Linked DNA regions of Homo sapiens. The protein of the gene in region 1 purifies or fractionates together with the protein of each later gene. This does not show direct contact. Each region holds a gene or a part of one and is shown in the gene's direction. Other genes may lie near its edges. The genes, in order: KLHL34, ARHGEF1, MAP1S, EIF2A, DDX11, UTP15 and BAG1.

What was found.
Region 2: the proteins of KLHL34 (region 1) and ARHGEF1 purify together in Homo sapiens (affinity purification with mass spectrometry; one large-scale study listed by BioGRID and IntAct). This does not show direct contact.
Region 3: the proteins of KLHL34 (region 1) and MAP1S purify together in Homo sapiens (affinity purification with mass spectrometry; one large-scale study listed by BioGRID and IntAct). This does not show direct contact.
Region 4: the proteins of KLHL34 (region 1) and EIF2A purify together in Homo sapiens (affinity purification with mass spectrometry; one large-scale study listed by BioGRID and IntAct). This does not show direct contact.
Region 5: the proteins of KLHL34 (region 1) and DDX11 purify together in Homo sapiens (affinity purification with mass spectrometry; one large-scale study listed by BioGRID and IntAct). This does not show direct contact.
Region 6: the proteins of KLHL34 (region 1) and UTP15 purify together in Homo sapiens (affinity purification with mass spectrometry; one large-scale study listed by BioGRID and IntAct). This does not show direct contact.
Region 7: the proteins of KLHL34 (region 1) and BAG1 purify together in Homo sapiens (affinity purification with mass spectrometry; 2 studies listed by BioGRID and IntAct, with this or other methods). This does not show direct contact.

Annotation. Positions count from the first base shown.
Region 1 is NC_000023.11:21,655,531-21,659,553, reverse strand, and holds the start of KLHL34 (kelch-like protein 34), read left to right. Parts: upstream 1-1,223; 5' UTR 1,224-1,765; coding exon 1,766-3,700; 3' UTR 3,701-4,023.
Region 2 is NC_000019.10:41,896,684-41,900,183, forward strand, and holds part of ARHGEF1 (rho guanine nucleotide exchange factor 1), read left to right. Parts: intron 1-631; coding exon of another isoform or gene 632-643; intron 644-1,262; coding exon of another isoform or gene 1,263-1,430; intron 1,431-1,758; coding exon 1,759-1,904; intron 1,905-3,500. UniProt on the Homo sapiens protein: Seems to play a role in the regulation of RhoA GTPase by guanine nucleotide-binding alpha-12 (GNA12) and alpha-13 (GNA13) subunits. Acts as a GTPase-activating protein (GAP) for GNA12 and GNA13, and as guanine nucleotide exchange factor (GEF) for RhoA GTPase.
Region 3 is NC_000019.10:17,729,480-17,732,246, forward strand, and holds part of MAP1S (microtubule-associated protein 1S), read left to right. Parts: intron 1-2,767. UniProt on the Homo sapiens protein: Microtubule-associated protein that mediates aggregation of mitochondria resulting in cell death and genomic destruction (MAGD). Plays a role in anchoring the microtubule organizing center to the centrosomes. Binds to DNA. Plays a role in apoptosis.
Region 4 is NC_000003.12:150,563,787-150,567,286, forward strand, and holds part of EIF2A (eukaryotic translation initiation factor 2A), read left to right. Parts: intron 1-512; coding exon 513-595; exon of another isoform or gene 596-3,320; intron 3,321-3,500. UniProt on the Homo sapiens protein: Functions in the early steps of protein synthesis of a small number of specific mRNAs. Acts by directing the binding of methionyl-tRNAi to 40S ribosomal subunits.
Region 5 is NC_000012.12:31,083,860-31,087,359, forward strand, and holds part of DDX11 (ATP-dependent DNA helicase DDX11), read left to right. Parts: coding exon 1-202; intron 203-723; coding exon 724-810; intron 811-1,109; coding exon 1,110-1,267; intron 1,268-1,273; exon of another isoform or gene 1,274-2,353; intron 2,354-2,366; exon of another isoform or gene 2,367-3,452; intron 3,453-3,500. UniProt on the Homo sapiens protein: DNA-dependent ATPase and ATP-dependent DNA helicase that participates in various functions in genomic stability, including DNA replication, DNA repair and heterochromatin organization as well as in ribosomal RNA synthesis.
Region 6 is NC_000005.10:73,568,743-73,572,242, forward strand, and holds part of UTP15 (U3 small nucleolar RNA-associated protein 15 homolog), read left to right. Parts: intron 1-754; coding exon 755-933; intron 934-1,843; coding exon 1,844-1,969; intron 1,970-3,500. UniProt on the Homo sapiens protein: Ribosome biogenesis factor. Involved in nucleolar processing of pre-18S ribosomal RNA. Required for optimal pre-ribosomal RNA transcription by RNA polymerase I.
Region 7 is NC_000009.12:33,251,971-33,254,708, reverse strand, and holds the end of BAG1 (BAG family molecular chaperone regulator 1), read left to right. Parts: 3' UTR 1-2,238; downstream 2,239-2,738. UniProt on the Homo sapiens protein: Co-chaperone for HSP70 and HSC70 chaperone proteins. Acts as a nucleotide-exchange factor (NEF) promoting the release of ADP from the HSP70 and HSC70 proteins thereby triggering client/substrate protein release.

The DNA of each region.
Region 1 (4,023 bases):
TCTCCAAATTGGCAAAAAATAAATAAATAAATAAATAAATAAATAAATAAATAAATAAATAAAATAAATAGAAAGAAAGAAAAAGACCAGTTATATTAATCATTTAGTTATTTAAGAACAGGATGGAGATGGAGAGATGCTTTCCTAAAGTCTCAAGATCAGGCTGGTTTTAGTCATTTCCATGCTGGGGCGTTTCTTGTAAAAAATAACTTTATGAGGAAGGGCCCTACGAAATTCCAGCTTTACCGAGCTTGCAACCGTACGGCTCATTATCCCGGGATAACATCGAGGATGTAGCAGCCAGTAATTAGATCAGAGCGTGGAAAATCGGGGAGAGAAATTGGAAGGAATGACTTTTTTTTTTTTTCCCCAAAGGAAGTGTACAATGAGTGGCAGAAAATCCAAGTCAACCACAGTTTCCTTGTTCATGCTGCAAAGGGATGGGTCGGGGCAGGGTCCAAGAATAGGAAGGGAAAACTCAGGTGAGGTCTGGGAACGGGCGTGGGAACAAAGGTGAAACGAGCCAGCCTGGGAGACGCGAGCTGCCTCAGGAAGGGCTCAGAGTAGGCCCAGAATCTCTCAAGGGTGAGTCCAGGTGAGGGACACGTTACCTAGCGCCGCTGGCGGGGAGCTTGGGATTCGCCCGGGCGTGGTTCCCGCCAGTGCCTCTTCAGCGCGCAGCGGCCTACTGGGTGTCAGCGCGCAAAGTCGCAGCTTAATCCTCGCTCCCGCTGGATTAATTAGGGCCTCTTCAAAGCAGAAAGTTGAGCCAGGGCTTCTTTCCCAGACACAGGGACACCGGGAGGTCTACACTCCTCCTGCCCAGCCGGACGCCCCTCCGCCGACACTACCGGGTCGAGGGGCTCCGGCGACTCGTGCCTCTCCAGTGAACTCCGGCTCCCGCAACCCCAACCGGGTTCCTGGGACCCTCTGGTGACACTGGTGGCCAGTAGGGTCACTGGAGTCAAGCCCTTGGCCCGGGCCGCTTCACCCGCGCCCGTGCCCTCGGTTCGCGGCCAGCAGTCAGGGCACGGGGCGGGGCGCGCCCGGGAGGCCGAGGCGGCGCGCTATTCCTGTCGCTGTGAGCTACCGGCATGTTATGTGCGGCGCCCAATCACGCCTCTGACCCGCCGCTCTGACCTGCGCCCTCCCCTCCCTAATCCCCTAGGCTTTGAGTTGATCCTCCGCGCGGAACAAGCTCACCCCCCCACTGCCCCGTGACCAGTTGTCCCCGGCCTTCGCGGGTGCCCGCAGAACCCGTCCTCCTCGTCCACCCCGGAGAGGTCAGAGTCCTCGCCCTGCACTCCCGGGACGCCGCATCTGCGCCGTCGGACATCCAGCACCCCCGGAGTCCACCGGCAACTCGGTTCTTCCAGGTGATGGTGTGCAGCCACCGCCGCCCCTGGCGTGCAGGTGTGGGCTCTCCACATTGGGCCGGGGAGGGGACTTCGGGCAACGCGCTGGAAGCCTCGGCAGTCGTGGAAACCAAGCCCCACACTCCCGGGAAGCCTCCAAATTCCGCGCCCTCCGTTACTAGGGGCCTCCGAAAACCGTTTCCAGACTGGATTTGCTCTGAGAGGGGCACTGGGCGATCTGCAGGTCTGGATGAAGGAGCCCTGGGCTTTAAACTGAGCAGGCAGAAATGGGCCCCTGCTAGGGGCTCTGTGGCTTACGCGGGGGTCCCGGGAGTGTTGTGCCCCGGGATGCCTCCGGCCCTGCCCAGCAGGCCTCTGGTCCCACCAGGCTGCTTCCAGCCCTGGGTAGAATGAGTTACTTCCTGTCTTACTGCAAAGCTCATGGCGGCGCGCTGCTCACCGGCTACCAGGCCCTGCGCGCCGAGGGCTTCCTGTGCGACGTGACACTGGAGACCGAGGGCAGCGAATTCCCGGCGCACAGGTCGCTCCTGGCGTGCTCCAGTGACTACTTCAGGGCCCTGTTCAAGAGCCACACCCAGGAATCCCGGGCGCGCGTGATCCACCTGCACGTGCCATCGGCAGCCGGCCTGCAGCGCCTGCTGGACTTCATCTACACTGCCTGGCTGTCGCTTTCCATGGACACTGTAGAGGACACTCTGGAGGCCGCCAGCTACCTGCAGGTCACTGAGGCCCTGGGGCTCTGTGGGCGCTACTTGGAGCGCCAGCTGGCTCCAGAGAACTGCTGCTTCGCCGCCAACGTGGCAGCGCGCTTTGGCCTGGCTCACACGCTGGACGCGGCCGAGCGCTGCATCGTGAGCCACTTGCAGGAGCTGCTGGCGCGGGGCGCGGGCCCCGCGGGACTCCTGGAGCTCAACCCTACATCGCTGAGGGCTGTACTGGGTGCCCCCGACGTGGCGCGGGTGCCCGAGGCCCGGCTACTGGGCCTGGCGTTAGCTTGGTTGCGGCAGGAGCCCACAACTGAGCGCCTGGCACACTGTACAGAGTTGCTGGAGCGTGTCCGCTTTGGCCTGGTTCCCGCCGACGTACTGCGGCGCGTGTACTCGGGCTCTGGCCTCGTGCTGCCCGCCCGGGTCAAGGGCCTCATCATCCAGGCCCTCAACTACCACACGACGCCCTCCCGCCAGCCGCTCATGCAGGGCGAGCAGACCAGCATCCGGAGCCCCCAGACCCGCATCTTGTTGGTGGGGGGGCGCAGGGCACGGGAGGTGGTGATTGAGGAGGTCGCGGCCCCGCAGAGGGCAGCTAGGGGCCAGGTCGCCGCCCCAGAGCCCGAGGAAGAAGAGGAAGAGTTGGAGGAAGAGGAGGAGGAGGAGGAGTGGGAGCTCACCCAGAACGTGGTGGCCTTCGATGTGTACAATCACCGCTGGCGCAGCCTTACGCAGCTACCCACACCACTGCTGGGGCACAGCGTGTGCACCGCGGGCAACTTCCTGTTTGTCCTGGGTGGGGAGAGCCCTTCCGGCAGTGCATCCTCTCCCCTGGCCGACGACTCGCGGGTGGTCACGGCCCAAGTGCACCGTTACGACCCGCGCTTCCACGCTTGGACGGAAGTGCCCGCCATGCGGGAAGCGCGGGCCCACTTCTGGTGCGGCGCGGTGGGCGAGAGGCTCCTGGCCGTCGGGGGCCTGGGTGCGGGCGGTGAGGTGCTGGCCTCGGTGGAGATGTACGACCTGCGTCGGGACCGCTGGACGGCGGCTGGGGCACTACCGCGGGCTCTGCACGGTCACGCGGGGGCCGTCGGGGACCGCGGTGTTGTGTACATCTCGGGGGGCAAGGCAGGGAGAGGCGAGGGCGGAGCGAGCAGCCTCCGGGACTTATACGTCCTGGGCCCTGAGGAGCAGGTTTGGAGCAAGAAGGCACCCATGGGCACCGCACGTTTCGGGCACCACATGGCAGTGCTGCGCGGCGCTGTGTTTGCTTTTCTGGGGCGATACGAGCCCTTCTCTGAGATCGAGCGCTACGACCCCGGCGCCGACCAGTGGACTCGGTTGCGGCCGCTGCCCTACGACCGCTTCTGCTATGGGCTGGCCGTGGTCGAGGAGACAGCGTTGCTGCTGGGCGGCCTCAAGTGGCGGGACTCGCGCCAGGTGCCTACCCGCAACGTAGTGGGCTACGACCTCGACCTGGACCGTTGGGAGGACATCGGCTGCGCGTTGCCCTGGGCCTGGAGCGGCCTGCGGTGCGCAGTGCTGCAGCTGGCCGAGGGTGGGGACGACGAGAGGGAGGGAGAGGTTGGAGAGGCGCTAGATTTGGTGCTGGGCTGAATGGGTCAGTCCGGTTTCCTTCCGCAATGGAGGAGAAAGTCGCGCTTGGTTAGTCTTACAGAGCAACGGATGGGCTTTTTCTAAGAAAGGGATTCTGGGAGCAGAGTGGCTTCTGAAGGTTAACAGGCAAACAAGGCCTTGAGCAAAGAGAAACATTTCTCCTTGAGCTGAGAATGGGAGACAGCGGGGCGGGGGGTCAAATAGAAGGCTATATGAATCAACTTCAGTGAGCTGGTGAAAGAAAATTTTTAGAAAGGCTCACGCAAGGCTAGAGAAGGACTTTCACAAATAAAATATGACCTTATTTTCCCTCTTACAGTTAA
Region 2 (3,500 bases), on another chromosome or scaffold:
CCTTTTATCCTTCCTTTTTCCTCTGCTCCTTCCTCTCCTTCCTTTTTTCACTAATCCTTCTCCTCCTCCCTTCCTCTCCACCACTCCTTCCATCTCCTTTATTTCCCCCTCCTCTCTCACCTCCCCTCTCCTCTCTCACCTCCCCCATCCTCTCTCACCTCCCCCCTCCTCTCTCACCTACCCCCTCCTCTCACCTCCCCGCTCCTCTCTCACCTCCCCTCTCTTCTCTCACCTCCCTCTTCCTCTCTCACCTCCCCCCTCCTCTCTCACCTTCCCCCTCCTCTCTTTCCTCCCCACTCCTCTCTCACCTGGGTTTTCTTTCCCCACCTTCCATCCCCCTCCGATCTCCCTGCCACTTTTCATTTTTTCAGCCCTTCCTCCCCTTCTCTTTCAAGCCCCCCTGCCCCCTGCCCCCCACCCCCCGCCTCGCTCCTGCCTCCTGGTGCCCGTCCCTCAACCCCCCACCCCTCTGCTCTGTGCCCTGGGGGCCCTGTCCCCCTTACAGCTGGGGGGCAGGCTCTGCCTCCTGCCCGTCCTTGTGCCGCTGCTTTGGGGACCCTTTGGTGGGTGCGGGGAGGTGGGTCAGGTTCCATCTGGGCCCACCTCTGACCCTGTGCCCCTCTCTCCCCAGAAGGTGGAAGAGGTGGGTGCCTGGGCCCTGGGTGGGGGAAGGGCTAGCCCCTCCCCCATTTCTCCCAGCCCCTCCCCTCTCCCCATGGCCACTCCCTCCCCTTCACTCCCTGTGAGGGGTGGGTGGGGACATCACCCTCCCAGTTGAAGAGCTAAGTATGGAAATCCTCCCCACCCCATAACACCCCCTCTGTTGCCATCCCCCTGCCTCAGGGAAGGGAGGGGGTCAGTCCTATGCTCCATCCTGGGTTCCCCATCCCTTCCCCCATCAAATTTCAGTATCCCCCCTCCCCCAAGACCCCCCACTACCCCAGTGCCCCTAAAATCCCACCACTCCTCTGACTCTCTCCTCTCTTCTGTTGCATGTTTGATCCCTGTCCTGGTCACCCTTGCCCCGGTCCTGGTCTCTCCCTGTCTCTGTCCCTGTCCTGGTCTCTCCCCGTCTCTGTCCCTGTCCTCGTCTCTCCCCAATTTCTGTCCCTGCCCTGGCCTCTCCCCACCTCTGTCCCTGCCCTGGTCTCTCCCCGTCTCTGTCCCTGTCCTGGTTTCTCTTCGTCTCTGTTCTTGTCTTGGTCTCTCCTTGTCTCTGTCCCCGGCATCTGCCTGACTCTGTCCTTGGCCTCGGGGTCCAGGCTATCAGGGCGTCTGGGGCGCTCAGAGAGCCTGCGGGTGAGTGACCGCCGCCGGCCTTCCCGGGGCAGCCTCGGGGCTAAGGGCCGGGGTGGGGGCCGCTCCCGGAGCGACGTGGACATGGACCCCAGTTCCGCCACGGCAGTGCTTGGCCCTGCCCGACGAGCCACGTATGTCAACCCTCTCCCTTCCCCCATCCACTAAGGCAGCCTGGAGAATCAGGGAGGGATTGTTGTCAGAGTCACAGAGGAATGGGCGTTGGAGACCGAGGTCATTGAGGCCAACTGTGGTCACAGACCTTGGAGGAGGAGGGGGTAGAATGCTTCTAGAGATCTGGGAACTCTAGTGTGGTCCGATCTAGAGACCTGGTCTGCTGCACGGGCCACCCTGCGGGCATCGAATGCCAAGGCCACTGACCGGGGTTGAACGCTCTAAGAGGCTGAAGGCTGCTTCTTGGGATGGCCCAAGCTGGGGCCCTAACAAGGCCTCTGTCCACAGCCCCGAGCCTGGAGATGAGGGGGAGCCGGGGCGGTCGGGACTGGAGCTTGAACCAGAAGAGCCTCCCGGCTGGCGGGAACTCGTCCCCCCAGACACCCTGCACAGCCTGCCCAAGAGCCAGGTGAAGCGGCAGGAGGTCATCAGCGGTGAGTACTGCCCCCATCACCCCACTGTGGCCAAGGACACAGTCCAGCTCTGGCAAAGGCAAAGACAGGCGCAGAGAGATGTTCATCTTGGTGTCATTTACCATCGGGAGAACTTGAAGGCAGCTTCAAATTCCCTCTTGTTCCAAGTTCAGATTGTTTCAACACAGAGCATTTTGATGGAATGTGAATGCCACTGTGGAAGGGACATTTCCAAACATTTCTAGTAGTGCAATACAGTGCTGATGTTGAGAACACTGCATTTCTGGTGCAAGCTTTTATTTCCTTGCTTGTGAAATGTGGGCATTAATAGTTCCTACCTCAGATATTGTCATGAAGATGAGATGATTTGTGTGAAATGTTTAGCATAGTGCTGGGCACAGAGGAAGAGCATTTTATTTTATTTATTTTTTTAAATTTTTATTTGAGGCAGAGTCTCAGTTGGTCTCTCAGGCTGGAGTGCAGTGGCACAATCACGGCTCACTGCAGCCTTACCCTCCCAGGCTCAACTGATCCTCCCACCTCAGCCTCCCGAGTAGCTGAACAGGCATGTACCACCATGCCTGGCTAATTTTTGTATTCTTTGTAGAGATGGGGTTTCGCCATGTTGGCCAGGCTGGTCTCGAACCCTTGGGCTCAAGTGATCCTCCTACCTCAGCCTCCCAAAGTCTTGGGATTACAAGTGTGAGCCACCAGGCCCAGTCAAGGAAGAGCATTTTAATGAGATTGTTGTTACTAGTTTGATCTTAATTGCTTAGGGGAGAAAAGATCCCCACAGGGGAAAGTTTGGGAGAATGATCAGTATATTAGCAGTGCTTGCTTCTGCGTGGAGAGATGATGAGTGTATCATTTTTGTCTTTTTCCTTTTTTCCTTTGCTAATTGTGTGGTGGCTAGGGAGGCTGGTGGCAAAAAGAGAAAGCTTTTTTTTTTTTTTTTTTTTTAAGACAGAGTTTTGCTCTTGTTGCCCAGGCTGGAGTGCAATGGCACAATCTCGGCTCACCACAACCTACGCCTCCCAGGTTCAAGTGATTCTCCTGCCTCAGCCTCCTGAGTAGCTGGGATTACAGGCATGTGCCACCACGCCCGGCTAATTTTGTATTTTTAGTAGAGACGGGGTTTCTCCATGTTGGTCAGGCTGGTCTCGAACGCCCGCCTCAGCCTCCCAAAGTGCTGGGATTACAGGCGTGAGCCACTGTGCCTAGCCCAAGAGAAAGGTTTGGGACTTGACTGAAAGCTTATTTACAGATTACTTCATAGTGAAAAAGATACTTATTCAAAAATTTTAGGGGAGTAGTTGAGTACTTTTTGGGTCACAGATCCTTCTAAGGACATGATAAAAAAAAAAAAAAACATGAGCCATGTGCTACCCATTAGGACTTTCTGGAAGATGGAAATGTGCTTTATTTGTACTGCTCACCATGGGGACCATCGGCCACCTATGGCTGGTGAGCACTTGAAATGCACTAGGCCAGGCACAGTGGCTCATGCCTGTGATCCCAGCACTTTGGGAAGCCGAGGTGGGCAGATCACTTGAGGTCAGGAGTTCGAGACTAGCCTGGCCAACATGGTGAAACCCCATCTCTACTAAACATACAAAA
Region 3 (2,767 bases), on another chromosome or scaffold:
GAGGAGGGTCTCTGGCCTGCTGTGCTGTTCTTTGTTTTTTTTCTGAGACAGAGTCTCACTCTGTCATCCAGGCTGGAGTGCAGTGGCGCAAACATGGCTCACTGCAGCCTCGACCTCCTGGGTTCAAGCAACCCTCCCACCTCAACCTCCCGAACAGGTGGGACCACAGACACGCACCATAACGGCCAGCTAATTTTTTTTTGAGATGGAGTCTTGCTCTGTCACCAGGCTGGAGTGCAGTGGTGCGATCTGAGCTCACTGCAACCTCTACCTCCCGGGGTCAAGCGATTCTCCTACCTCAGCCTCCCAAGTAGCTGAGATTACAGGCATGCGCAACCATGCCCAGCTAATTTTTGTATTTTTAGTAGAGATGGGGTTTCACCATGCTGGTCAGGCCGGTCTCGAACTCCTGGCCTCGTGATCTGCCCGCCTCGGCCTCCCAAAGTACTGGGATTACAGACGTGAGCCACTGTGCCCAGCCTACGCCCAGCTAATTTTAAAATTTTTCAGTAGCACTGGGGTCTCACTATGTTGCCCTGGCTGGTCTTGAACTCCTGAACTCAAGTGATCCTTTGGCCTCGGCCTCCCAAAGTGCTGGGATTATAGGCATAAGCCACCACGCCCGACTCAACGTTTAATTTTGGATGAACCGCCAGACTGTTTTCCACAGCAGCTGCTTGACGCTAGCCAGTCTAATGGGTGTGAGGTGGGATCTCATTGTGGTTTTGATTTCCATGTCCCTAATGATTAGTGATGTTGCATCTTTTCATATGCCTATTGGCCATTTGTCTGTCTTCTTTGGAGAAATGTCTATTCAATTCCTTTGCTCATTTTAAAATTTTGTTTTACTTTTTAGAGACAGGGTCTCGGTCTGTTACCCATGCTGGAGTGTAGTGCAAACACAGCTCATTATAGCCTCAACTTCCTGGGCTCAAGTGATCCTCCCAGCTCAGCCTCCCAAGTAGCTGGGACTACACAGGTGCATGCCATCGTGCCTGGCCAATTGTTTAATGTTTTGTAGAGATGGAGTCTCACTATGTTGCCCAGGCTGATCTTGAACTCCCAGCCTCAAGCGATTCTCTCGCCTTGGCCTCCCAAACTGTTGGGATTACAGGCATGAGCCACCATACCTAGCCCCCTTTGCCCATTTTTAAATTGAGTTGTTTTCCGTTGCTGAGTTTTAGGAGTTTTTTAAATCATTCTGGACATTAATCCTTTAGCAGATAAATGGCTTGCAAATATTTCCTCCCATTCTGTGAGCTGCCTTTTTATTCTTTTGATAGTGCCCTTTGATGCACAAAAGTTTTAAATTCTCATGAAGTCCATTTTGTCTATTTTTTTCTTTTGTTGTCTGCACTTTTGATGTCAGACCCAATAAATGATTGCCACATCGATTTTTTTTCTTTTTTCTTTTTCTTTTTTTTTTTTTTCAGATGAGTCTGGCTCTGTTGCCCAGGCTGCAGCATGGGAGCACTATCTTGGCTCACTGCAACCTCCGCCTCCCGGGTTCAAGCGATTCTCCTGCCTCAGCCTTCCTGAGTAGCTGCGATTACAGGCACCCACCACCACACCTGGCTAATTTTTTTTGTGTTTTTAGTAGACACGGGGTTTCACCACGTTGGCCAGGCTGGTTTCAAACTCCTGACCTCAAGTGATCTGCCCGCCTCGGCCTCCCAGAGTACTAAGATTATAGATGTGAGTCACCATGCCTGGTCAAATCCAACAGTGAGAAGCTTCTACCCCATGTTTTCTTCCAGGAGTTTTAAGTTTTCCATTTCACATTTAGGTCCATTTGGAGGTAATTTTTGTATGTGGTGAAAAGATCCAGTGTCATTCTCTTGCATGTGGAAGCCCAGCTTTCCCAGCACCATTTGTTGAAAAGACTATCCTTTCCCCATTGAATGTTTGGAACGCTTGTTGAAGATCATTTCAGCATACATGTGATGATTTATTTCCGGGCCTCTATTGTATTCCATTGGTCTATATGTCTGTCTTTATGCCAGTGCCACGCTGTTTTGATTACTGTAGCTTTGTAGTAAGTTTTGAAATCTGGAAGTGTGAGTCCTCTATCTTGATTCTTCTATTTCATGATTGTTTAATCTCCTTTTCACATTGTTCATTGTTCATGTATAGAAATTCAACTGTGTTTTGCCTGTGGACTTTGTACCTTGCTTCTTTGCTGAATTCGTTTATTATTATTTTTTGAGATGGAGTCTCACTCTGTCGCCCAGGCTGGAGTGCAGTGGCACAATCTCAGCTCACTGCAACCTCCACTTCCTGGGTTCAAGCAGTTCTCCTGCCTCTGCCTCCCGAGTAGCTGGGATTACAGGCACCTGCCACCACGCCCAGCTAATTTTTGTATTTTTAGTAAGAGACAGGGTTTCGCCATGTTGGCTAGGCTGGTCTTGAACTCCTGACCTCAAGTGATCTGCCTGCCTCAGCCTCCCAAAGTGCTGGGATTACAGGCGTGAGCCACTGCACCCCCAGGCCTGATTTTTTACATTATTGTTCATAAAGTCTGTTGAACTGGCATTTTCTTGTAGAATTAAATATCTGTGCCTGGCTTTGGTATTAAGACAATTCTGGTCTTATAAAATGAGTTAGGAAGTGTTCCTTCCTCTTCAGTTCCTCGGAAAAGTTTGAGAAAGGCTGATGTTAGTTCTCTAAATGTTTAGTGGCTTCCCCAGGGCTTTTCTTTGTTGGGAGGTCGTAAGTTACTGATTCATTCTCCTTGCTAGCTACAGGTATGTGCTGATTTTCTATTTTT
Region 4 (3,500 bases), on another chromosome or scaffold:
CTTTAGTATTAAGTGGAAAGGAACAATGTTTTCTTTTTTTTGTTTGTTTGAGAGGGAGTCTCGCTCTGTCACCCAGGCTGGAGTGCAATGGCCTGATCTTGGCTCACGGCAACCTCTGCCTTCTAGGTTCAAGCAATTTCACCTGCCTCAGCCTCCCAAGTAGCTGGGACTACAGGCACGTGCCACCATGCCTGGCTAATTTTTGTATTTTTAGTAGAGATGGGGTTTCACCATGTTGGCCAGGCTGGTCTTGAACTCCTGACCTCAGGTGATCCACCTGCCTTGGCCTCCCAAAGTGCTGGGATTGCAGGTGTGAGCCACCGCACCTGGCCTTTTCTATTAACATATATTGACTAAAACTATTAGTAACTGACTTAATATCATATTTATAAGTGTTTATAAGTGTTTTTCCTTAAATGGTAACCAATATCATAAATTACTTTAACATGTTAATGTGATGTTACATTCTGTCTGAATATTTTTTATACTTTTTTTTTTTTTCATTGACATAGGTGTCCATCCTGGTCAGAAGATGAAACTCTTTGTGCCCGCAATGTTAACAATGAAGTTCACTTCTTTGAAAACAACAATTTTAGTATGGAAAGATTTATGACATAATTTTATTACTTACTGTAATCGTATACAGTTTCCATTAACTTTTATGACATCATAGGGTTTTCCTAAATACTGTTAATCTATTAATCAATAATTACTCTTACATACATTTGCATAATTCTTTATAAGTCTGAATTCAGTGAAAATCTGTAACACAAAGGTTTTCTTTTACAATAACTTTTTATTATCTGGTAATTGCTATTAAGACATTTGAATATCTTTTCCTGAATTTAATTGCTATTGAAATTCTGTGACACAAATTTTTTAGATATTTTATCGTGTAGAATTTTAAACTTCAGACACCTAGTTCTAGTAACCATCAGCTTGTGGCCAATCTTATCTCATCCATACATCTCTCCAGCTACCATCTCTTACTAAGTGAAAGCAAATCCCAGATATGGTTATACTTTTATATACTTGTTAAATATGTAATTGTAAATATTTCAGAGTAGATTTCTGAAGATTGGGGCCTTTCATTTTTTAAACTTAGCCACAAAACCATTATCACAAATTATTAAATATGTGTTCAAATTTCTACTAATTGCAAATGTTACAATTTTTTTTAAAACTCGGGATCCAAATAAGGTACTGCACATTGTGGTTGATTGATATATCTTTTATGTTTCTTTTGGTCCTATAAGTTCCCACTCTATCTGTTATTTTATTCTTCATAATTTATTGTTTAAGAAACAAGGTTATTTGTCTTTCACGTTTTCCCATAGTTTGAATTTTGCTTTTGTATCCCATGGTATAATTTAACATGTTCATCTGTCCCCTATAAATTGCAAGTTGGCTCTAGAGTTTCAGCTTCAGGTTCTTTTTTAGGTGAGTAAGGGTAAGACTACATTATAAGGTGATGTTCACTTCTTTTATCAAGAAGCACATAATGTCTGGTTGTCTTTAATTTTGTAGGCTTAGCTGACATTAATGTTTCATGCCTGGATGCATTATTTCATCAGTGGTTGCAAATTGTTGATACTCTGGTTTTTTCTCCCTCACTTATTTTTCAGCTGTACTGCTTCTATAAAGAAAAATTTCCCCTTCTACTATTTGGTTACCTAGTGCTGCATTTATATAGAAAAGGCGGGATAAATATTCTTGCTCTTATCAGTTTTAATATAATGTATTCCACCTCTAGCAACCTTCATTGTAACCAATTAGCTTTTTCCCCATTCTTGTTTTTCGAGAGTGGGCCTCATTCTTTTGTCCAAGCTGAGTGCAATCATGGCTCACTGCAATCTCGACTTCCTGGGCTCAAGCAATTCTCCTGCCTCAGCCTCCCAAGTAGCTGGGACTACAGGCTTGCACCACCATGCCCGGCTAATTTTTGATTATTTGTAGAGACAGGATCTCATTATGTTGCCCAGGCTGTTTTTTAGTTCCATTCTTTTTTTTTTTTTTTTTTTTTTTTGAGATGGAGTTTCGCTGTTGTTGCCCGGGCTGGAGTGCAATGGTGCGATCTCGGCTTACCGCAACCTCTGCCTCCCAGGTTCAAGCGATTCTCCTGCCTCAGCCTCCTGAGTAGCTGAGATTACAGGCATGTGCCAACATGCCCGGCCAATTTTGTATTTTTAGTAGAGATGGGGTTTCGCCATGTTGGTCAGGCTGGTCTCGAGCTCCCGACCTCAGGTGATCCACCTGCCTCACCCTCCCAAAGTGCTGGCATTACAGGCGTGAGCCACCACGCCTGGCCTTTTTAGTCCCATTCTTAATGAGCTGTGGATTTAAAAGGTATGTGTTTCAGTCCATTGTAGTTATTTTTCTTATTGATGCTCAAATTGTCTCATCTTTGATCAATTAATCCTTAGTGACTTCTTTGCTATATGGTAAGACAAGTCATTCTAGGATTAATTTGTACATTTCTAACCATTACACCTAGAACTGGCTAATTTTTCAGGAAACCCTGTCGCCTTTTTGGTGTGCTACTTTTGAATAGCTATTGATCTCTGAAATTGAACAAAGAAAAAGTATTAGCTCTTGATCTCATTGAAGGAAACATTAAAAGGTAATAGGGTTTCTTGAAAAATTGGCTGAGTCTAGCAAAAAAAAAGGTATTTAGGTTCTAGAGATTCTTATTTGCTGTTGCATTGATCATTGTTTCTAGGCCTTTTTTTTCTATTTAAAAGATGTAACAATCATAATTTTATTTAAATTAAAGTTTTATACGTATAGTTTTATTTAAATTGAAGACTACAAGGTTTTTATTTAACTTCTATCTTATTTGTATTGCCTTCTGTCACCACCAAGAATCTTGTTACTCTGGAATACCAGGGATGATAATTTGAGAATATCACATTCACATAAGTATTCATTTGGTTTGTTCCACATTATCCACAAGGTATTCTTACAATCTTAATACCAAAAAGTAACACTGTTACTGAAAATAATTTTTTAAAAAGGGTTTGCAGTTCTTTTGTCTTTAGAGCATCCCATTACTGATTGTACAGTTTTGAGTATATCATAGTTAGAATAGGAATTGGTAACTTTGTTCACACGTACCAAAGATGGCATGTAGGCTGATTTTGAGCAGCATCCAATCAGTATAGTTATGCATTTTATTTTCCTGTGTTTGAGGCGCACTGTCACCTCACTGTTTCTGGGTTAGCTTGCTTTCTTGTCTTATTCTCCTCTTTGTGAGCATGTCAAATGAAGAGGGATCACCACTTTGACAGTTTGGTGTGCTGCTTTTGAAAAGCCATTGATCTCTGAAATTGAACAAAGAAAGTATATTAGCTCTTGATCTAATTAACTAGAGTGGCAGTTTTATTAATAATAGCATGGCTCAGACTGCCTGGAATAGAGTAAGCTCTTAATATCAGCCATTGTTACTGTGGTTGTGATCATCATTATCATGCATCTGTTTATCACATTAAGTTACAGAATTT
Region 5 (3,500 bases), on another chromosome or scaffold:
CTTTGAACAGAAGAAGCGTGAAGAAGAGGCACGACTCCTTGAAACTGGAACTGGCCCCTTACATGATGAGAAAGATGAATCCCTGTGTCTGTCTTCTTCCTGCGAAGGGGCTGCAGGCACCCCGAGGCCTGCTGGAGAACCGGCCTGGGTTACTCAGTTTGTGCAGAAGAAAGAAGAGAGGGACCTGGTGGACCGACTAAAGGTGAGACCTGGGGTATCCGGAAGTGGGAGTACTGGAGGAAACAGGGCTTCAGCGATTGTTCTGGGGCGATTCCGAGACTCAGGCAGTGCATGCTCCCCTGCCGTTGCCGTGCCTCTCAGCTCTTCCCTCAGCTCCTTGGGTCTATGGTGCTGCCGCTGTGCTGTCTTTTTTGAGCTGGAGGTCAGCAGGCCTTCTCCACATAAGGAACTGTTGGTGCCCATTTATTACTCACCTGGGAAAGGACCTGATCATTGCCATTGGCAGCATGGTTCAATGGCTGCAAATGGATCTGATGGAGAGCGTGTGGCTTTGGGAGGAGTGTGCCGCCTTCCGCAGTGAGCAGCGAGGCTGGGACCGGCAGGGATGAGGTCCCGGGAGGGGATGCGGCAGCCCTTGAGTGCTGGCCGGGGAAGGAGAGATGCCCCCAGTGAGGAGGCGCCGGGCTGAGTGGCCCAGACTCCTTAGGAGAGGCCTGGTTTTGGGCTTCCTTGGTGATTTTCCTTCATGTCTGCCTCCTGTAGGCGGAGCAGGCCAGGAGGAAGCAGCGAGAAGAACGCCTGCAGCAGCTGCAGCACAGGGTGCAGCTCAAGTATGCAGCCAAGCGCCTGGTGAGCCTCATTTCTTGGGGGGCAGGATTATGTCCAGGCAGGGTTGCTCTGCTTGGAGGCTCATGGGTGCGTGGTCAGGGCCTTGGTCTCCCCTCCGTGACCCTCACTGGCTATGTGCTCCCGTACAGAAGCTGGGCTGTGAGTGGTTGAGGCGTGGATCCTAGGAGTCGACCTCTCTCCAGCCAGGCAGCCAGGCCTATGTGAATGGGGCGTGGTGTGCTTTGTCTCTGGCATGTGGGGAGGTGGGTACTGGTGCTGAGACTTCTTCCTCCCTCACCACCTCCACTACCCCTGTCCAGAGGCAGGAAGAAGAAGAAAGAGAGAATCTCCTCCGCCTCAGCAGGGAGATGCTAGAGACAGGCCCGGAGGCTGAGCGGCTGGAGCAGCTGGAGTCTGGGGAGGAGGAGCTGGTCCTCGCCGAATACGAGAGTGATGAGGAGAAAAAGGTGGCGAGCAGGTGAGACAGAGGCGGTAGCACTACCCTGCCCCAGGCCAGGGGACACCCTTGAAGACAGCTCTTTCCCTCATGCCACAGATGCCATGAAGCACCTGGCAAGAGGCATGGTGGCCTCTGCCCTCTGCTCTAAGCCGGGTCCTTCCTAGGGTCCATGAGTGCCAGTGGCAGTGAGGACAGTCACCGGCCTGGCCTGTGTCCTCTCAGCTGTCCTCACGGCAGCTCAGGCAGGGCAGGAACATTTGTGTCTGCGCCTTATACACAAGGAGGCTGCAGCCCCACAAGGAGAGACTCCTTGGCTGAGGCCACAAGCCTCGGCAGTGGAGAGCTGGGCTAGAACTCAGCTGGCCTGGCTCTAGATCTCAGGCTCTGAGGCAGCTGACTGCACTGGGTAACCTGTGAGGTGCCAACCATCAAGGCGTCCTTAGCCTGAGCTTTCCTTCTCCCATAAAGCCTCTGTTGGTCCAGACTCAAGGTTTCCACTTGATGAGCCATGAGCTGCTGGGTGACTTAGCCCTGAGCAGGCCACCCAGGCCATTTCGGGCCCACAGGATCCCTGGTCACAGCCCTGTTCCCATTCACACTGGAACCTCACCACCATCCCTGAGTGTCTGCTCTGAGTATGGCACTGTCCAGATGCTGTGGACATAGAAGGGAAGAAGACATGGAGGGGACAGTTAATAGACATGAAAACAAATAGCACCTATGTGAAGTCAGCATGTTTGCCTACAAGGAAAACAAAATGGTGATGTGGATGGGGTGGGGGGCTGCACCTGATGATGAGTCCCGTGTGTCCTGTGACATCCTGGCCACCACATCTGTCGGAGGGTAACTGCAAGACCAGAGACCCTCCATGGATATTCCTGAAGGTTCATCCCCGGCCTTCACAGTCTGTCTGCAGGGCGCCTTCTGATGCCACCTCCAGCCGCCATCCACCAGACGCCAGCTTCCCCGCTGCCCTGAACTTCCTCCAGCGCACCAGGCCTTCCTCTGTCCTGTCTGAGGATTTGCTCATGCAACGTGCTGTGGCCAAACACCCTGCCCTCCTCCCTTGGCAGATGTCTTCCTCTCCTTTAAGGCCTGGCTCAGGTGTCGTCTTGGTGGCTTCGGGTGTCAGCTGCTCTGTTTTGCTCATGCACCTGCTTGTGCTTCTGTTGTTGCCTCCTCTCCCTGGCTGGGCTCGAGCTGCTTCAGGGCAGGAACCACGTCTTTATAGTTTGATGTTCCCAGAGCTGACCCAGTGTTTGGCATAGGGGTGTGCTCAATAAAATCGAGTTGACATGAATGAGCAGATGCTGCCTCGTTGCAGTCTGGTAGTGTAATTCCAGGCTGCGCATGTGAACTTCGACTTCTGCCCCTGCCCAGGGCAGAGACCACCGTGTTGCTTTATGCCTCGCTGGTGAGAGGGGGTCATAAACAGTTTGTGCTCCATGAACCCTTCCTGCCCGCCTCCGAGGTCATGTTTCTGCTCCCTCTCTTCTCCCTTAGAGCCCGTGGGGACAAGGCAGAGAACTTGAGTGGAGATGGAGGTGGTGAATATTAAAGGAACAAAGTGCTCCTTCAGGTCTGGGCAAGAGCCATGGATCCTGTAGGTCAGCTTCTGGGGCTTCCCATGCCCTCACGTTTCAGGAGATAACGTGAGCCTCGGAGGACCTGAGTTCTGAATAGAAAATTTTTGCTCTTCATTTCTTCACACACCCAGCCTCTCAGTGAGCTCCTGCTGGCTTTGTCCAGCATGCGACATAAGATTGAATCCAAGCCTTTTAAGATAGAGCCGCCTGCTCTTTAGTGACCATGAAGCCAAGCCTGTAATAATTACTCTTCTGATAGCCCAAGACAATTGTATTCTGTTTTGTTAGAAAGGAATTTCGAGGTGAACAAAAATGTTTTCTTTTTATGTGATGTTGCCATAGGTAGCGTGTGCCTGTCAGATGGTTTTGTGTTTTCTGAGGAGCATAGACTAGTAGAGCTAGCTCAGCTTCAGGCCATGGGATGCAGGGCTGGCTTCCCTGCCAACGCCTGGCGCTGATGGATTCTTCCCGCATTGCTGGGAAGGGCAGACTGAGGCACTGACACAAGAAGAGTTGTAGCTGGTCATAAGTGACAGCATCCTCTGTTCACTCGATTGGTCAGTTGTAGCTTCATCCAGGAGATGGTCATGGGGTTCCTGCTGCATACCAAGCTCTAGGTGAGGCCACGGGGACTCAGCAGAAACAAGGCCGACCTGGGTCCTCCC
Region 6 (3,500 bases), on another chromosome or scaffold:
AAGAGTGCTTAACTTGGGTTCCGTGGTCCAGTTTCATGGGGCTTATGAATTCCCTAGAATTGTATGTGATATTTTAGGAAATACACGTTTATCTAGGGAGCTACTCTGTAGCTTTTGGTTAACTTTAGTGGGGTCTGTGGCCCAGCTGAGATTATGAATTACTGACCTGAAGACAACCTTACAGCTGGTAATGACAGCTCTATAGGCCTGTACTGTCTTAGAGGCTCTTATGTTGAAGTCAAGTAGGAAGGTGGATTTTCTTCTTGAATTTATAGTGTTTTGCCCCTTAATAAATTAAGTGGCCATCACAATTTTATATTATAACTTTGTTTTCAGGATTGCCAATGTCCGTGCTGAAATTTGTTAAAATTTAACAGAAATTTATGTAACATGATTCTATTTAGTGGTAAATCTCTTTAGAGTTTTTTAAAGAACTTTTTGAAATTTTAAAAATTAAAGTGCCTTTGCTTCCATATTCAGCAGCTAAGTGGAATTGTTTATATACTAGAAAATATAATTTTAAGGCTATCCTTTAATTTTTTTTAACTTTACAATATAGGAGTATTTACACTTCTTAATTGGTTTGGGGGCAAACACTTGTAAGTTTTCTCTTTCTTTCATGATTTCCCCCTATGAAGACTCCCTGAAACTCAGCTGCTTTTTTTTTAATCTGAGAAAAAGGAGCATTTTATGTTAGAAGGTATCAGAAAAATAATTTTCTTGCTTTTTAATATACTGACCTTCAATCTTTCAGAGCAGTTCATACAGTAGATTTTACAGCTGACAAATATCACGTGGTCTCTGGGGCTGATGATTATACAGTTAAATTATGGGATATTCCAAACTCCAAAGAAATTTTGACATTTAAAGAACACTCTGATTATGTGAGGTGTGGATGTGCTAGCAAACTTAATCCGGATCTCTTTATAACAGGTTGGTGAACTCTATTCCCTCCTGAAGCAAATAATCTCACGGGGATGTACTTTAATGTTGCTATGGGACTCTTTTGGGATGGAGGGGTTTAAATTTTTTTTATAAAGGAATATGTTTCTGATTAATTCTTCAGTTTTTAAATTAATTTTTATGTATGTATGTTTGCATTTATTTTCAGACAGGGTCTCACTCTGTTGCCCAGGCTGGAGTGCAGTGATGTGACCATAGCTCACTGCATCTGCTACCTCCTGGGCTCAAGTGATCCTCCCACATAAGCCTCCCAAGTAGCTGGGACTACAGGTGCCCACCACCACGTCCAGCTACTTTGTGTATTTTTTTGTAGAGACGGTTTTGCCATGTTGCCCAGGCTGGTCTCGAACTCCTGGGCTCAAGTGATCCACCTACCTCAATTTCCTCCCGGAGGACTGGGATTACAAGTGTGAGCCACCATGCCTGGCTTCCAATTGTTTTTTATTTTCTTATTCTTCTTTTGTTGATTGTTCATGTCTTCCAAATGTGTTTGGAAAAATCAGGCTGTCTTGAAAACATAATAGACTCTCAGAACTGTAATGTATAGTACCCTGCCTCAAGCAGCCAAGAAACAAAGAGTGCAGTTTAGCCTTTGTGGGTGCCTTTACAAAGATTTCCAGATGATTCAGTAGTGACAGTAGTCCAAAGAAAGAAATATTTTAAGATCAGAGCAAGTTAGATTCTGTATAGTATTATGTAGTGCTTCTTCAGACACGATCAGTAGTAGATGGTTTGGAGGTCCTGTGTCTTCATGAATATACATATATGTCTTTTTAAAACTCCATCTAAGCTTTTTTTCCTTTTAAAATTTATATCTGGATACACACAGTTTTTGTTGTTTTAAACAGTCAAACTAAAAATTCAAAAATTGACATTTTAGGATCATATGATCATACTGTGAAGATGTTTGATGCACGAACGAGTGAGAGTGTTCTCTCCGTTGAGCATGGGCAGCCAGTGGAGAGTGTCCTACTTTTCCCCTCTGGAGGTCTTCTGGTGTCAGCAGGTACTTCTTAAAAATAGCTTTCACCAATATTGTTGGTTTTGAATCACGTTTGTTTAAAATCAGTTGCTCTTTGTAATTTATCAGTGTGCATTTGAATTGCATATCTAAGTCTTTGTTCAAACAGTTGATAGGTAGGACTGGCAAGCAGTTATCATTTATTGTGTACCTAATGTGAGCCAGGCACTGTGCTGTTACATATGAACTCTAATGCCCTAGATGATGCTACAAGGTAGTTAGCTTTTTCCCTACTTTACAGCAATGAAATAAAAGTTTTAACTTATTTTTCAAGGCAAAGTGGTAAGTGGCAGATCTGAAATCACAGAACTCGAGAGCTCTGTGTATTTAGCCCTGTGCCATCTTATTTATTTAGCCCTGTGCCATCTTATTTAACCCCAGAAATTTAGCCCTGTGCCATCTTATTTAACCCCAGAAATTTAGCTCTTATGTATTTAGCCCTGTGCCATCTTATTTAACCCCAGAAATTTAGCTCATACTCCTTTTACTCCTACCTAAGAGATCTGCAGCAGCTTTTGAAAATCAGTTATTTGAGATCTAGTAGGCTTGTCTCTTTTTCTGTGACTCTCTTGATTGAAATGCCACTACCCAGCAAATAGCTGCTAGTACTAGAGAAAGGAGATAATGTGGCCTCAAAAGGGGCCTTGGTACATTTTTCAACAAGTTGGGACTGAGATGTTTTTCTCATTTTGCACATATTGCATTTTCATAATTACAGTGGAAGAAGTAAATTGGCTTTTTTCATTTGTAAATAAAGTAAAAATGTGTTCATATTAGAAGAATGTATAGGTAGTATGTATACTTGACAACATATATATTGCTGTGTGTACCTCCTTTTTTTTTTTTTCTTAATTCTAAAATCTGGCTAGAAATTACTCTGTTTTATATTCTTTTCCCCAGTACCTATTTGATTTAAAAATAAGTTGAGGCGGGATGTGGTTGCTCACGCCTGTAATCCTAGCACTTTGGGAGGCTGAGGCAGGCGGATAGCTTGAGTCCAGGAGTTTGAGACCAGCCTGGGCAACATAGCAAGACTCTAAGACTCCATCTTTAATTAAAAAAAGAAAAAAGTTGATAATGTCAGATGTGTCTACTTTTCTTGCTGTTATTCTGACAAATGGAAAAAATATCATGTTGAACAGGGAGAATAGAAAGCTGTGTGCTGATCTCCACTGTGTGTCACTAGCTAATTGTGACCTCGGGCAATCCCTTAAGGTCTCTAGACCTTGAAAATGAGAGGGTTGGACTAGATCAGTGATTTCAACTGTGATCCCTCTTGTGAGGTGCCACATAGGAGTGGAGAGGTGGGAACTGTGAGTTGGGTTCCAACTCCTGTTCCCCAGTCAAGATTTCAGTCTCCCCTTCCATCCCTTTTTCTGTCTTTCCATATTAGACTTTTTTGCTTGATATTTTGCTGCAGATCTACATTATTCACTTCCACTGCTATATAGAATTTCTTTTAAAAAATGATTTTATTATAATTTTCTTAAAATGGACTCTTTCAGTTATACATTTA
Region 7 (2,738 bases), on another chromosome or scaffold:
CCTAATTCCAGAGCATCTGGCTGGGTTGTTGGGTTCTAGACTTTGTCCTCACCTCCCAGTGACCCTGACTAGCCACAGGCCATGAGATACCAGGGGGCCGTTCCTTGGATGGAGCCTGTGGTTGATGCAAGGCTTCCTTGTCCCCAAGCAAGTCTTCAGAAGGTTAGAACCCAGTGTTGACTGAGTCTGTGCTTGAAACCAGGCCAGAGCCATGGATTAGGAAGGGCAAAGAGAAGGCACCAGAATGAGTAAAGCAGGCAGGTGGTGAAGCCAACCATAAACTTCTCAGGAGTGACATGTGCTTCCTTCAAAGGCATTTTTGTTAACCATATCCTTCTGAGTTCTATGTTTCCTTCACAGCTGTTCTATCCATTTTGTGGACTGTCCCCCACCCCCACCCCATCATTGTTTTTAAAAAATTAAGGCCTGGCGCAGCAGCTCATGCCTATAATCCCAGCACTTTGGGAGGCTGAGGCGGGCGGATCACTTGAGGCCAGGAGTTTGAGACCAGCCCAGGCAACATAGCAAAACCCCATTCTGCTTTAAAAAAAAAAAAAAAAAAAATTAGCTTGGCGTAGTGGCATGTGCCTATAATCCCAGCTACTGGGGAGGCTGAGGCACAAGAATCATTTGAACCTGGGAGGTAGAGGTTGCTGTGAGCCGAGATTACGCCCCTGCACTCCAGCCTGGGTCACAGAGTGAGACTCCATCTCAGAAAAAAAAAAAATTGAGTCAGGTGCAGTAGCTCCTTCCTGTAGTCCCAGCTACTTGGGAGGCTGAGGCTAGAGGATCACTTGAGCCCAGGAGTTTGAGTCTAGTCTGGGCAACATAGCAAGACCCCATCTCTAAAATTTAAGTAAGTAAAAGTAGATAAATAAAAAGAAAAAAAAACTGTTTATGTGCTCATCATAAAGTAGAAGAGTGGTTTGCTTTTTTTTTTTTTTTTGGATTAATGAGGAAATCATTCTGTGGCTCTAGTCATAATTTATGCTTAATAACATTGATAGTAGCCCTTTGCGCTATAACTCTACCTAAAGACTCACATCATTTGGCAGAGAGAGAGTCGTTGAAGTCCCAGGAATTCAGGACTGGGCAGGTTAAGACCTCAGACAAGGTAGTAGAGGTAGACTTGTGGACAAGGCTCGGGTCCCAGCCCACCGCACCCCAACTTTAATCAGAGTGGTTCACTATTGATCTATTTTTGTGTGATAGCTGTGTGGCGTGGGCCACAACATTTAATGAGAAGTTACTGTGCACCAAACTGCCGAACACCATTCTAAACTATTCATATATATTAGTCATTTAATTCTTACATAACTTGAGAGGTAGACAGATATCCTTATTTTAGAGATGAGGAAACCAAGAGAACTTAGGTCATTAGCGCAAGGTTGTAGAGTAAGCGGCAAAGCCAAGACACAAAGCTGGGTGGTTTGGTTTCAGAGCCAGTGCTTTTCCCCTCTACTGTACTGCCTCTCAACCAACACAGGGTTGCACAGGCCCATTCTCTGATTTTTTTCCTCTTGTCCTCTGCCTCTCCCTCTAGCTCCCACTTCCTCTCTGCTCTAGTTCATTTTCTTTAGAGCAGCCCGAGTGATCATGAAGTGCAAATCTTGCCATGTCAGTCCCCTGCTTAGAACCCTCCAATGGCTCACTTTCTCTTTAGGCAAAAGTCTTTACCCCATGCCTTCTCCCATCTCATCTCAACCCCCTCATTTGTTGGCTGTCTGCTGTCAGCCACTCTTCTTTCAGGTCCTCAGATGCACTGCACCCTCTCCTGCCTGGGGGTCTTTGCTCCTGCTACTACCTCTGCTTGAACAGCTCCTCACCTTCCTTCCTCCAACCCTACCCTTGTATAGGTGACTTTTGTTCATCCTTCAGAATTCAACTCACATGTCTCTTGCATGGAGAACCCTCACCTACTGTGTTGAGACCCTGTCCAGCCCCCAGGTGGGATCCTCTCTCGACTTCCCATACATTTCTTTCACAGCATTTACATAGTCCATGATAGTTTACTTGTGGGATTATTTGGTTAATCTTTGCCTTTAACACCAGGGTTCCTTGGGTGAAGGAGCTTCTTTATCTTGGTAACAGCATTATTTCAAGCATAACTTGTAATATAGTTATATTACATATATAACATATATATATATAACATAACATATATAACATATATAACAAGCATAACTTGTTATATAGTCTTGTATATAGTAAGACCTCAATAAATATTTGGAGAACAAATGAATGTTGAATGCACACATCAATAGTGAAACTTCTATAGCTGCATTTGGCCTCAGAATCTCCGTCAGCATTGGAATTTACAGCCTTAACAGCCTTTATTGTCTTAAGGGTTGAGAAAAGAGGCCCTAATGCATGGACTGCTGGGCAGATGTGATAGGTGATTGCACAGGCCCCACCCACGCAGATCTGCTCACCCAAGGGGTTTCTGCCTGTGAAACTCTTCTCCCGTGAGAAGGGGAGAGAGCACCCCTTCTTCTCCCGTGAGAAGGGGAGAGAGCACCCCTTCTTCTCCCGTGAGAAGGGGAGAGAGCACCCCTTCTTCTCCCGTGAGAAGGGGAGAGAGCACCCCTTCTTCTCCCGTGAGAAGGGGAGAGAGCACCCCTTCTTCTCCCGTGAGAAGGGGAGAGAGCACCCCTTCTTCTCCCGTGAGAAGGGGAGAGAGCACCCCTTCTTCTCCCGTGAGAAGGGGAGAGAGCACCCCTTCTTCTCCCGTGAGAAGG